3 linked regions of the Homo sapiens genome follow. The protein of the gene in region 3 interacts with the protein of the main gene of each other region in a pairwise test. Each region holds a gene or a part of one and is shown on either strand. Other genes may lie near its edges.

What was found.
Region 1: the proteins of ZNF16 (region 3) and ACSL6 interact in a two-hybrid assay, tested with the Homo sapiens proteins (one study listed by IntAct).
Region 2: the proteins of ZNF16 (region 3) and COL1A2 interact in a two-hybrid assay, tested with the Homo sapiens proteins (one study listed by IntAct).

Annotation. Positions count from the first base shown.
Region 1 is NC_000005.10:132,008,733-132,012,964, forward strand, and holds the start of ACSL6 (long-chain-fatty-acid--CoA ligase 6), read right to left. Parts: upstream 2,927-4,232; 5' UTR 2,822-2,926; coding exon 2,773-2,821; exon of another isoform or gene 2,724-2,772; intron 1-2,723. UniProt on the Homo sapiens protein: Catalyzes the conversion of long-chain fatty acids to their active form acyl-CoA for both synthesis of cellular lipids, and degradation via beta-oxidation.
Region 2 is NC_000007.14:94,397,759-94,401,408, reverse strand, and holds part of COL1A2 (collagen alpha-2(I) chain precursor), read right to left. Parts: intron 3,028-3,650; coding exon 3,013-3,027; intron 2,361-3,012; coding exon 2,325-2,360; intron 1,214-2,324; coding exon 1,121-1,213; intron 1-1,120. UniProt on the Homo sapiens protein: Type I collagen is a member of group I collagen (fibrillar forming collagen).
Region 3 is NC_000008.11:144,944,347-144,947,996, forward strand, and holds part of ZNF16 (zinc finger protein 16), read right to left. Parts: exon of another isoform or gene 3,594-3,650; intron 1,870-3,593; 5' UTR 1,861-1,869; coding exon 1,665-1,860; exon of another isoform or gene 1,567-1,664; intron 1-1,566. UniProt on the Homo sapiens protein: Acts as a transcriptional activator. Promotes cell proliferation by facilitating the cell cycle phase transition from the S to G2/M phase.

The sequences.
Region 1 (4,232 bases), on a different chromosome or scaffold from region 3:
TGGCCTCCCTATCTCTGACAAATTCCCCTGAATGCTGCAGAAGCCCACTCATATGTCACTGATGGTTGGGTATATGATTGAACAGATTAGACCCTGCGGCATGGGGCTGCCTTAGCCTAGAGGAAGGTGTGCCCTTTTAGAAAGTTATCCACCAAGAGTGAGACTTCTTCCTACTTTGCACAAAGGTGCTGTACAGGCAGGCAGAAGCTCTGATCCTCTGCTCCCATTGTCCTCTAGGTGTTTATGGCACTGAGGGCATGCTTCCCCAAGCCAGACCTAGCATCTGACTCATGCTGGACTTATTTTACTTGTCTCCTTGTTTAGTATTCAACACACAGGTGAGATCTGGGCTGGCCCAGGACTCATTGCTGGCCTCTCCAGCAGGCAACAGGACAGACACAGCCCAGAACAGATGGCTACCTCCCACAAACAACAGTCAGCTCCTCCTCCTGGTGCATTGCCACACCCCCATCCCCGACTTTATGTCATCTCTCCCTGAGGGCCCTTGAGGGAAACCCTTGCCTGGCCCTACCTTGTCTCCCTAGGGCCAGGTTAGGTGGCAAAAAGCACATAACTCTACTAAAGAGAGACATTGCCTCCTGTTACTGGCTGAGTGGAAGGGATCTGGCAGCTGCCGTGGGACCATGGGACCCTGGAGATGACAAGGCAGAGCATGTTCTCAGGTGTGCTCACAGAACTACAGCTCTTAACTCAGGAGTCTCTTCTGCCACCAGAGAAAGGCTGGGGGCCAGGTGGAGTCTCAAGGAGGGTGGATACATAACTTAAAATGCCCCAGCAATTGTCTGGGTTATTCTATCCAATAAGCACCATAGACCAGCCTCAGCCTCTTGCTTTTTGCATTGGGAAGCTCGGCCTCTGTGGAAGCAGCCACTACCTGCCCCAAGAATCGCTCCTGCTTGACGGTTCTGAGGCCCTGTATAGTCTCTCAGTGAGGCAGATTCCCCAGTTTCCCATTAGAGGAGGGAGCTGACCACTTTAGGAAATGCTCCACAAGGAAACAGGACTCCACTTTGAGTCAGTGCCAGCTAACCCTGCTCACAGACAAGGACCCCACAGGGTGAGGGACTTTTTCTCACAGGCTGCTGATGACCCCGGTCACAAGTGGTCTTGCAGCCCCTAGACACCTCCCTGCAGCCACAGAAGATCAAGTCTTCAGAGAGCTGACCTTGGACCCATGGTTGGGTGGGGCCTCCTGAGGGTAGGGCAAAGGGGTCCTGGCAGTGGGGAGAGGCTCTGAGACCATCCATCACTCAGGCATTAAATGGTGGCTGTTACGACCACCATCACCATTATTTTAATTATCCTTGCCCTTTACCTCCAACCCCAGCTCTAGCCCTGCCCTTGTCTGCTGGATGTGCCTCAGGACCAGAGTGCCCCTGCACAGCCAGTCACAGACACTGGCAGACAGAAGGAGCTTAGGGAGCTGAGGGGATTAGGGAGGCTTCACTCACTCTCCCAGCTCAGGGGAAGTGTCCCTGTGGCCTAACTTAAGGAAATGGTGGGGGTGAAGGAAGTGATTACTAGGCCCACCAACCCTCCAGGTTCAGGCCTGATCCAGCCAAGCACTTAGCATTGGTTGATCAATTAAAACCTCGAATGGAATCCCAGTCTGCCAAATATCCATGTGACACTAGGCAAGTCAATTGACCTCTGAACTCAGTAAAAAAAGGGATGGTGCCACCGACCTCCTAGGGTTTTCCATGAATATTAAATAACACGTACAAAGCCTCAGGTAAAGATTTCAAGAGGGTCAACTTCCTCCCCTTCCTTGGCTCAGAAAAAGCTTTATTACCACTTCTGATGGTGCTGTTTGAATGTGAGATAATAATAAACACTAACATTCATAGAGCATTTGCTGTGGCCTAGGACAGGTTTAAGGCCAATTTAAGGATCAAGCACTGCACACAAATTATCAGGCTGAATCTGCACATGGGGGTTGGGGTGGAGGTGGAGATCCTTTAGTGGTATTATACTCTGGAGGACCCCAGGCTCAGAGAGGGGAAGTAGCCGGTGCAGGTGGTAGAACTGGCAGATAAAAGGGCCTGTGGTGAGACTCCAGGTGTGGGTGTATGGGGGGTTGAGGGAGGTAAGCGCGGAGGCGGGATCGAGCAGGGGTCCTTGTAGCCGCCTAAGAAGTGCAGTGGTGAAGCTGACTCCTGTGAGGTGGAGGGGAGGGGTCTGGAAACAGTGGAGACACAGCAGCCCTGGGCAGAGCAGAGGAGCCAGGTGAACCCTACCTTACAGAAATCTTGTACTCTGGCTGAAGGACGGGCAGGGAGGGGTCGTGAGGAAGCCCCTCGCCGGGATCAGGAAGCCTAGGTCAGTCCGGGTTACATAGCTGACCTGCTGTGGGACCTCGGGGACCAACACCCTCGGTTTCTGGTCCCAGGAGATGGACAAGGACGCAATGTCTGTTCCTGGCCTTGGCTCAGGGCCTAATCTGATCCGCGGATGGTCCTTGCCATCAGGGAAGGGGGACGCAAGAACTCGGCGGGGGTTTGTGGTGGGGTCGCAGAGAGCAAGCCCTATATCTCCCTCCGCAGACCCAGGTGCTCCCCAAACCCGGCCCGGAGCCCGCGAGAACTGGGGGCGGAGGGTGTACTTAGGCGGCCCTGGGGACCTTGACGGGACAGCTCAGCAGCAGGGGATGGGGGCTCGGCGGCCGCGGAGATGTAACACCTCCACCTCGGGCGAAGACCTCATAGCCTGCGGGAGATGGGAGTCCGGGACGCGGACAGGACGGGCACTTACCTACGAATAGCCAGAGGGAGCCCCCCGACACGAGGAAGAAGGTCAGCATGGCGGTCAGCGGGGCCCGGCCCGGCCCGGCCCGGCCTCCCCGACCCGCAGCCCCGCAGCCCCGCAGCCCAGCAGCCCCAGCAGTAGCCGCGCCGCCGCCGCCGCTGCCGGGTATTTTTAGCCCCCGCCCTCCGGCCCCGCAGCTCCCGCCTCCCCGCGCCGCTGCGGAGACGGCTCAAGGGGGAGGGCGCGGCGCGCACTCGCAACCGAGCCTTACTCCCTGCCCTGCAGCCTGGCCGGCCGGGTCTGGGGCTTGCCCCGCACTGACCGCGGTGTCGGAACCGCCAAGCTCCCGGGCGGGGGAGGGGCCCGGCCGCAGAGCGAACCAGCCCTCTCCGGCCCCGCTCTCCAACGTCAGTACCTGGCATTCTGCGGAAACCGGCTGGAAGGGGGAGCACGGGCGACGAGCGCCAGAGCGTGACATTGAGCCCACCCCGCCGCCACCCACCCCATCAACACGCGACCCTGCCCCCGCGCGACTCGCAGCCTGGGTTTTATGGCTGGGCAGGCTCGAATGGCAGCCGGGTCGCGGTTACCTGTCCTAGGAGGTGCACACTCCTGTGGGCTGTTGCCCGCTGACACCAACGCCCCCTAGGACCCGAGTTTGCAGACATGGGGAGCCTCCGGGTGCCACCTCTGCAAACCAGTGAGGGGAGGGAGTGGCAAGTGTTCACCTAGGCTCTGACAAATCAGGCAGCTAGACCAGATAGTGCCCAGATCATCTGGGGACGCACGAGTTCAGGTCTGAGGCTACGCAAGGTCACAGGAGACTCAGTGTGATCACAGGCTGCCATATGTGTTCACCAGTAGTAACATGGTCACAGGCAGCCACATGGAATCACAGGTGTCTCATGAGGAAATCATGATCTTCGTACACAACTGTATGTGGCACACGAGGTCTCAAGAAGCCCCTCATAGCCACAATAAATGGCCATATAGCCACACACAGCCACAGATGCCCACACTGCTGGGCTGAGGGCTTGGACACCTGTTGCAGTGTCTGCCATTGAAAGGAGGAAGCCCAGTTGCACATTTTCTGAAATAATAAGGGTAGGCATCCTGGTGGGCACCCCATGAACATCTGCACCTCCAAGCAAGATCACCTCTTCCCAATGCCCTTGCTTGTTTTCCTCAAGCATGCAGAGCCCACCAGGACTCCAGCACCGAGGACAGCGCTCAGGCAGCCGGGCCTTCTCTATACGCAGCCCTCCCAGGCCAGGAGCTGGCTGAGCCACAGCCCAGAAAGAAGAGGATAGAAAACCAGAGAGCAGAAGTCAGGAAGCAGAGAGTGGAAGAGCATGAGATCTCTTCAGGCCCACCAGAGACCATCAGCCATGAGTGCATGTGGGCTCACAGCTCAGCAGCTGGGTGTGTGGGGGGGCCTGTATCTGTAGTACGAGTACATGGCATGT
Region 2 (3,650 bases), on a different chromosome or scaffold from region 3:
AACTAAATTCCTAAAAAGTTATGAGAGCTGTACGTCAAAAACTTGGCCGACACCTCTTTGAAATGGAGAACTTCCCTACTTTACTTTTTGAGCCCTTCCTCTGCCTTAACTCGGTGTCTCCACTCCCACCTTTTACCTCTACTCTGAGGAAGGGAAGCTTTCTAAACTTTTAATGTTACTAAGGGCTCCTGACAAATTAGACAGAGCTCAAGAGGACATCTTCACATTTTCACCTGTTGCCCTTCCCCACCGGAGCTACACAAAATGACTAAGAGATCTTTTTCTTGCTGGAGTTTCAGGAAGGGCATAAAGAGTTTTCAAGTTTAGAGGAAAATTAAATTAAAATACCCCTTGGAAGATAAAACTTCTAAAAACTAGTTCACAGTAATAACTTTACTGTTAAAGATCTCTCTTATAGTGGTAGCTCTATTAAAGAAGCTGCTTTTTAATGCAATTCATAGATAAGCAATCATAATAAGATCTTTGGGGGAGAAAGGTCTTATTTTACTGACATACAGTTGGGTATTAGAATCAGGCTTCTGATTCATAGTGCTAACCAATTAAGCAAATATGTTTTCCTTCCTGCAGTGAGGTCATTTGGCACTCATACCATTGTTAAAGACATGAAGCTAAAAGAAGATATTAATGAAAAAGGGAAATGTACTTTTCTCAAATTAGTTTCAAGCAAATTAAACCTAAAACCGCTTTGAATGTTGGTTCAGCAGACTTCAAGTCAAGGAGAATAAAAAGCGTAGGATGTTTGTAAAATTGCTTAAGATCAGGGATTTCACTTACACAGTTCAATCTAATCAAAATCCTTAATAATGCAACACCTCTTATTTGTGCCTTACTAATAAAAGATATTAAATCTCCAAATTAAATAATGGTAATGATGGCCACAGCTAACTTCAGTGCACACAAAGACCAGTCCTGTAATTGACAAGGGCTCACAAAGAGAATGGGTAAAGCAGAATCTTGAGTGAAAAAACCAAATAAATGAAATAAAATATACTAATTTTCAAATGGAAGAATTATCCCTTAACTGCTAAAAATAAATTCCACAATAAACCTTCTTTCAACTGAAGTTAGCTAAAAGTTAGCAATACGTAAGACACCTTACCCCACCGAGACCAGGGGGGCCAGGAGGACCAGGTGGACCAGGAGGGCCTGTGGGACCATCTTCACCATCTCTGCCTGGGGGGCCTGGTGGACCCTGTTATGTAAAAAGTGAGTAAGGTCAGGTTAGACAGGCCCTGTAGAAACCTAAGAATTATATGTGGTAAGATCAGTTGTTCAGACCTTTCTATGTGCAAGTAGGGTGGAAATTTAATATACTATATTTGTCATTGATTGAAATTCACTTATGAGTCTATTTTAGAAAGAGGGTTAATAACTCTTAAGATATCACAGGGTAGTTTTCCTAAAGAACTATCTCGGCCATTGAATATTAATTCATACTGAAGCTCCAGTATTCAAATATAAAAATTATAGCCAAAATGTATGGTTCCACGTGCTTCATATGTTTAACAGTGCACAAGGACTTACATCGTATTTTTATTGCCGATCTCTGACTGTGACAAACTGATTCAATTGTTTTGGTATGTTACATGTGAATGAATTAACTGATGTGACAGTTAATAAGGTCACTTTATCATAGGAGAGAAAATCCTGCAGATTTACTATCATTAACTACTTGTATTGTTAAAATAATTAACTGATTTAATTCTATTTCTAATAAATTGAGTGAAATACATGTAAGTCTCCTCTTCCTAATAGATATAAGATATAGGTATTCATATATTGGCAAAAGTGTTATACAATGCAAAACCACATAGTTATAAATGTCAAATAAGCATAGCAGGGAGATTTAAGAATGCCACAAATAAAATGTAAGCCTGACTTGTACATGCATGAATTTGAGCAGAGAAACATGTTACTGACTACTAATTCACTATTATTTCCAAGCTACCTAAGGGATCTTAGTTCAAAAGCAAATGAAATGTGTTAAAAAGAGGACTGTGGTGGTAGGTAGATATATTTCCATTATGCATGTGTTGGATGGGTCAATTACAAATAAAGAAAGTAGACCATGCAAAGAATATGACTGTAACAGTTTTTCTTTTTTAACGGTAATTTTGACCTAAAACAAATATTGATCATATATAATAATGCTCATTCGCTTCTTCTGCAGTGCATTACCTGTTTAAAGGGGTGTACAATTATCTGGATACATAATATTCTTATAAATTGCCAGTTCCTGTAGTTTCTAACATATAGTTATTCAAATACGGGACGAAGCCCTTTATAGTTCAAAAATTACACACCCTTTCTCCACGTGGTCCTCTATCTCCGGCTGGGCCCTACAGGAAAGATACAAACAGGACAATAATAAATGCCTAAGAAGTAATTTCCAGTGAACAAACAAATCATTCTTGATAATAATTAGTTGGTAAGACTGATGTAACTACAATGTTATTAGATAGCATATAAAAAATTGACACAATGCAATAGATAAAAGTATATATTTTAATTGTAATTATACGTAATTTTTTTTCAGCTGGAGGATTGGAAGCTGCTATAGTCTTCAGCTATTAGGTCAATACTATGCATAGCATTTTGAATAAGATGATAACTGTAGATTAAATGATCATTTTGTTACATTTTTAACAGCACATTTATATAGTCAAAGCCCTTTAAAATAAACTTTTTTTACTCCCTATAATTAACATAATATGCCTTCCATCTCCAGAATAAAAACAAGTCTTTTTTTTTCCTTTTGTATGTAAATCACCAGTTTGTATCACATAAATGTAATTACAGATGATTCCAGAAGATAATTAAACTTTGTTATCTTAAACATCAAAGCTACTTTATTTTATGCTTTAGCTAATGTATATTCATATGAACAAAATTTTGATAAAGTATTTTCCTTCTATAGTCTACTATAAATTTAGTTAAATTATGTTATCCCTGATAATTTTAGATATTTATGGAGAAGTAGTGTACTCTTACCTTTCTTACAGTTTCCTAGAAAAGAATAAATCAAAGATTATTATGAAGAAAATTGTATATATATATTTAAAAACAGCTTCCATTTTGGTGTAGTATACAAATATACCTTCACAATTCATTACATTATGCATTTACTATTATCTCAGTTTAATATTTCAAACTACAATTTAAAATTTTACCAACATGTCAAATAAAAATATGTACCTACAGAACAAAAAATACATAGCAATACGTACCTGTACTTATGCCTCAAATTCAACTCATGAGCTAAGAATGTGTTAACAATAAGTGCTTTTGCAAATAATTCCAAAGGAGTGAAAAGATTCTCTAGCTCAGTGAAATCTTCTGCTTCATAGAAGCTGATCCTAAAACTCAAACTTCTATTGGATTATTTACTCTATATTTCTTATGAATATTTTATAAACCTAGTCTTATTCAGTAGCCCCGCCTATTTTGGAAAATTGGGTGGGTACTTTCTAAGGCAGCCAGAAAGGTTTTGACTATCATAATTCTTCACAATTTTCTTGGGAATCTAGGATGGTCAATATTAATGTAACTTCTTCCCTTCCAAGAGAAGACATCACTGTAGCCAAGGGAATCAAAGTATTTTTAAAAATTCTAAAAAAAGTTTTACTCAC
Region 3 (3,650 bases):
GGCATGAGCCACCGTGGTGCTGGGTTACAGGCGTGAGCCACCGTGGTGCTGGGTTACAGGCGTGAGCCACCGTGGTGCTGGGTTACAGGCGTGAGCCACCGTGGTGCTGGGTTACAGGTGTGAGCCACCGTGGTGCTGGGTTACAGGTGTGAGCCACCATGCCCAGCCTAGTTCTCTATGGTTTCTTTCACCTCTCTGAGCATATTTGAGGCAGTTGATTTGAAGTTTTTGTCTACTTAAGTCCAATGTCTGTGCTTTCTCCAGGACACTTTTTGTCAGTTTACTTTTTTCCTTTGAATGGGACATATTTTTTTGCTTCGTTATATGCTTCATGATTTTTGCTTTGTTAAAAACTGCACAACTGAATATTAAAATGTGGTATCCCCCCTCCAGGCTTTGCTGTTTTTGATTGTTGAAGACTAGAGTCACATGTTCATTTAGTGACTTTTCCAAACTATTTTTGCAAAGACTATTCTTTGTCGAGTACAGTCACTGAAGTCTTTTTCTTTAGCTTGTGTTCAACCAGTGTTTTGACAGAGATTTTATCAAGAGAAAAACCAACACAAAACACTTCTCCCAGTCTTTGTGGATTGACTCTGTGTTGGGGTACTTTTTAAACGCTGTTTACAACTCTTTCTGAGTTGACTGCCTTCACTGAGCCTAGAGATTAGACAGAGTTCTTGAGAAAGCTTATGGTCTTAACAGGTCTTTTCTGAGCACACACCCAGTCCTGCGCATGCATGTGACTTCCTGGATTCCCCAAAATATATAGGTGCTTTTTTTTTTTTCAAATTTATGTATTTTTTTCTGAGACAGAGCCTCACTCCAGTTGCCCAGGCTAGAGTGCAGTGGCATGATCTTAGCTCACTGCAACCCTTGCCTACCAGGTTCAAGCAATTCTTGTGCTTCAGCCTTCCAAGTAGGTGGAATTACAGGTATGTGCCACCACACCTGGCTAATTTTTGTACTTTTAGTAGAGACAGGGTTTTACCATGTTAGCCATGCTTGTCTCGAACTCCTGGCCTCAAGCAATCCACCCACCTCGGCCTCCCAAAGTGCTGGGATTACAGGCGAGAGTGATCACACCCAGCCTTTCTTAATTTTTTAGTAGAGATAGGGTCTTGCCATGTTATACTGGCTGGTCCTGAACTCCTGGCCTCATACAATCCTCCTGCCTTGGCCTCTCAAAGTGCTCAGATTATAGGTATGAGCCACCACACCCGGGCCAAGGGTGCTTTTGAATGCCTCTATTTCCCCACAAGAAACTCCTCAGCTTTTCTTCCTAGGCTTTAGATGGCCAACTGTATGGGTAACCACAGTACAAAGCCCTGGACCAGAGTAGAGTCCTGAGGGGAGAGGGCTGCCACCAGCCTGGTTGTTGAATTGGGAAGGGGTCAGGAGTATAGGGCAAATCAAAGGACGCTGGTGGCCATCATGTCATACCTCTTCGTGTCAAGTGGGGAAATCACAGTTCTGCTCAAGGTGCCAGGGGCCAGGCTAGGTTAACTTCCTTGCTGACATCCAGCCTTGGCTCCTTGAGTCAGAGTACCCCGTCACCCTCCCTACCTGTGATGACACAGATGCCTCCTAGGGGTAAGCACAGGGTTCCATGGACATCACTTCCCCAGAATAAGGGCACCAGCGGAGAACTGTTCTTAAAGTACCTGGCTGCTGATAGTGAGGGCAGATGGCTTCCAGCTCAGTATCACTACAGCAGGGGGTACCACAGGCTGCAGATCCAGGGTGGGTCACAGCAGGAGCATCTCTCACACGGGCCTGGGCTGCAGGGGTCCAGGGGGATGGTCCTGGAACTGAGAGCTCCATCTCTGCCTCCTCACGGCGAGTTCTGAGGCTGGGCATGACAAGGACCTGAAAACCGGCAAGAACACAGGTGAGTCTACAGACAGGCTAGCTCTAGGGATTCATCCTCCCATCAGGCCGGGGTCTCTTCCTCCACCCCTGCAGCCCAAGACCTGAAGAGGGCCTGGTGCTGCCAGGTCTCAGGGGCTGATGCTGTGTTTCCTGATCTTGGACCTAAAAAGAGGGAGTCAGCCATGGAGACACAGACTCAAAAGCCAGGGCCACAGTACAAAGGGGCAAGATGCTGACCCTAAGGTAAAGTGGGTCATGGTGCCCAGACCTGCCATGATAGGAGGGCAGCCCCCACAGGGTCTGTGTCCTGCTGTGGGGCCTGTGTACTGCTGTGGGGCCTGTACCCTGCTGTGGGCCTGTGTCCTGCTGTGGGTCTGTATCCTGCTGTTGGGCTTGTGTCCTGCTGTTGGGCCTGTGTCCTGCTGTTGGGCCTGTGTCCTACTGTGGGCCTGTACCCTACTGTGGGCCATACCCTGCTGTGGGCCCGTGTCCTGCTGTGGGGCCCGTACCCTGCTGTGGGCCATACCCTTCTGTGGGCCTGTACCCTGCTGTGGGCCTGTGTCCTGCTGTGGGCCTGTGTCCTGCTGTGGGGCTGTGTCCTGCTGTGGGCCTGTATCCTGCTGTTGGGCCTGTGTCCTGCTGTTGGGCTTGTGTCCTGCTGTGGGGCCTGTGTCCTGCTGTGGGGCCTGTACCCTGCTGTGGGCCATACCCTTCTGTGGGCCTGTACCCTGCTGTGGGCCTGTGTCCTGCTGTGGGCCTGTGTCCTGCTGTGGGGCTGTGTCCTGCTGTGGGCCTGTATCCTGCTGTTGGGCCTGTGTCCTGCTGTTGGGCCTGTGTCCTGCTGTGGGCCTGTACCCTACTGTGGGCCATACCCTGCTGTGGGCCTGTGTCCTGCTGTGGGGCCTGTACCCTGCTGTGGGCCATACCCTTCTGTGGGCCTGTACCCTGCTGTGGGCCTGTGTCCTGCTGTGGGCCTGTGTCCTGCTGTTGGGCTTGTGTCCTGCTGTTGGGCTTGTGTCCTGCTGTGGGGCCTGTGTCCTGCTGTGGGGCCTGTACCCTGCTGTGGGGCCTGTACCCTGCTGCGGGCCTGTACCCTGCTGCGGGCCTGTATCCTGCTGTGGGCCTGTGTCCTGTTGTGGGGCCTGTATCCTGCTGTGGGCCTGTATCCTGCTGTGGGCCTGTATCCTGCTGTGACCACTCTTCTCACTCCTTGTTGCTGACATTCACAATGCTCTGAAGCTGGGCAGGCCAGACCCACCTAGAGTGGGAGAACAGCAGCTCCAAAGGGTGAACAGCCAGGGGCAGCCTGTGCTGCAGCCCCACATGTCATCATTATGTGTCAACGCCTACCAAATCCTAGTGGTCAGTTCTATCTGAGTTGCACCATCCTGGCAGCACCCACAGCAGGTGTTCCCATCTTTACTTGCACCAGCTACTCCCTCCTAGCCTCTCATTCCCCATTTCATGTTGGCACCCCAGTGTGCACTTCTGCACTGCCACCAACTTCCTTGGTGATTATGTCCAGTCTTGAGGCATCAACACCCTTGTTAAGATTCACAAACTTGGGCTCATCTCCAGTCCTAACTACTCCCTGTGAGCAGGAGAGAGGACACTCCCACGTGGCGGCATGACGGGCTCCTCACATGTTACTGATTCCCCCACCCCTCACTGTGTAAATGCACCATACCCTGCCCGGGTGCCCACTGGGAGCACTGACATACCTCAGCCCTTCACTCACATTGTACTGACATTGACTCTTCTGTCCTTCATGAGCACCA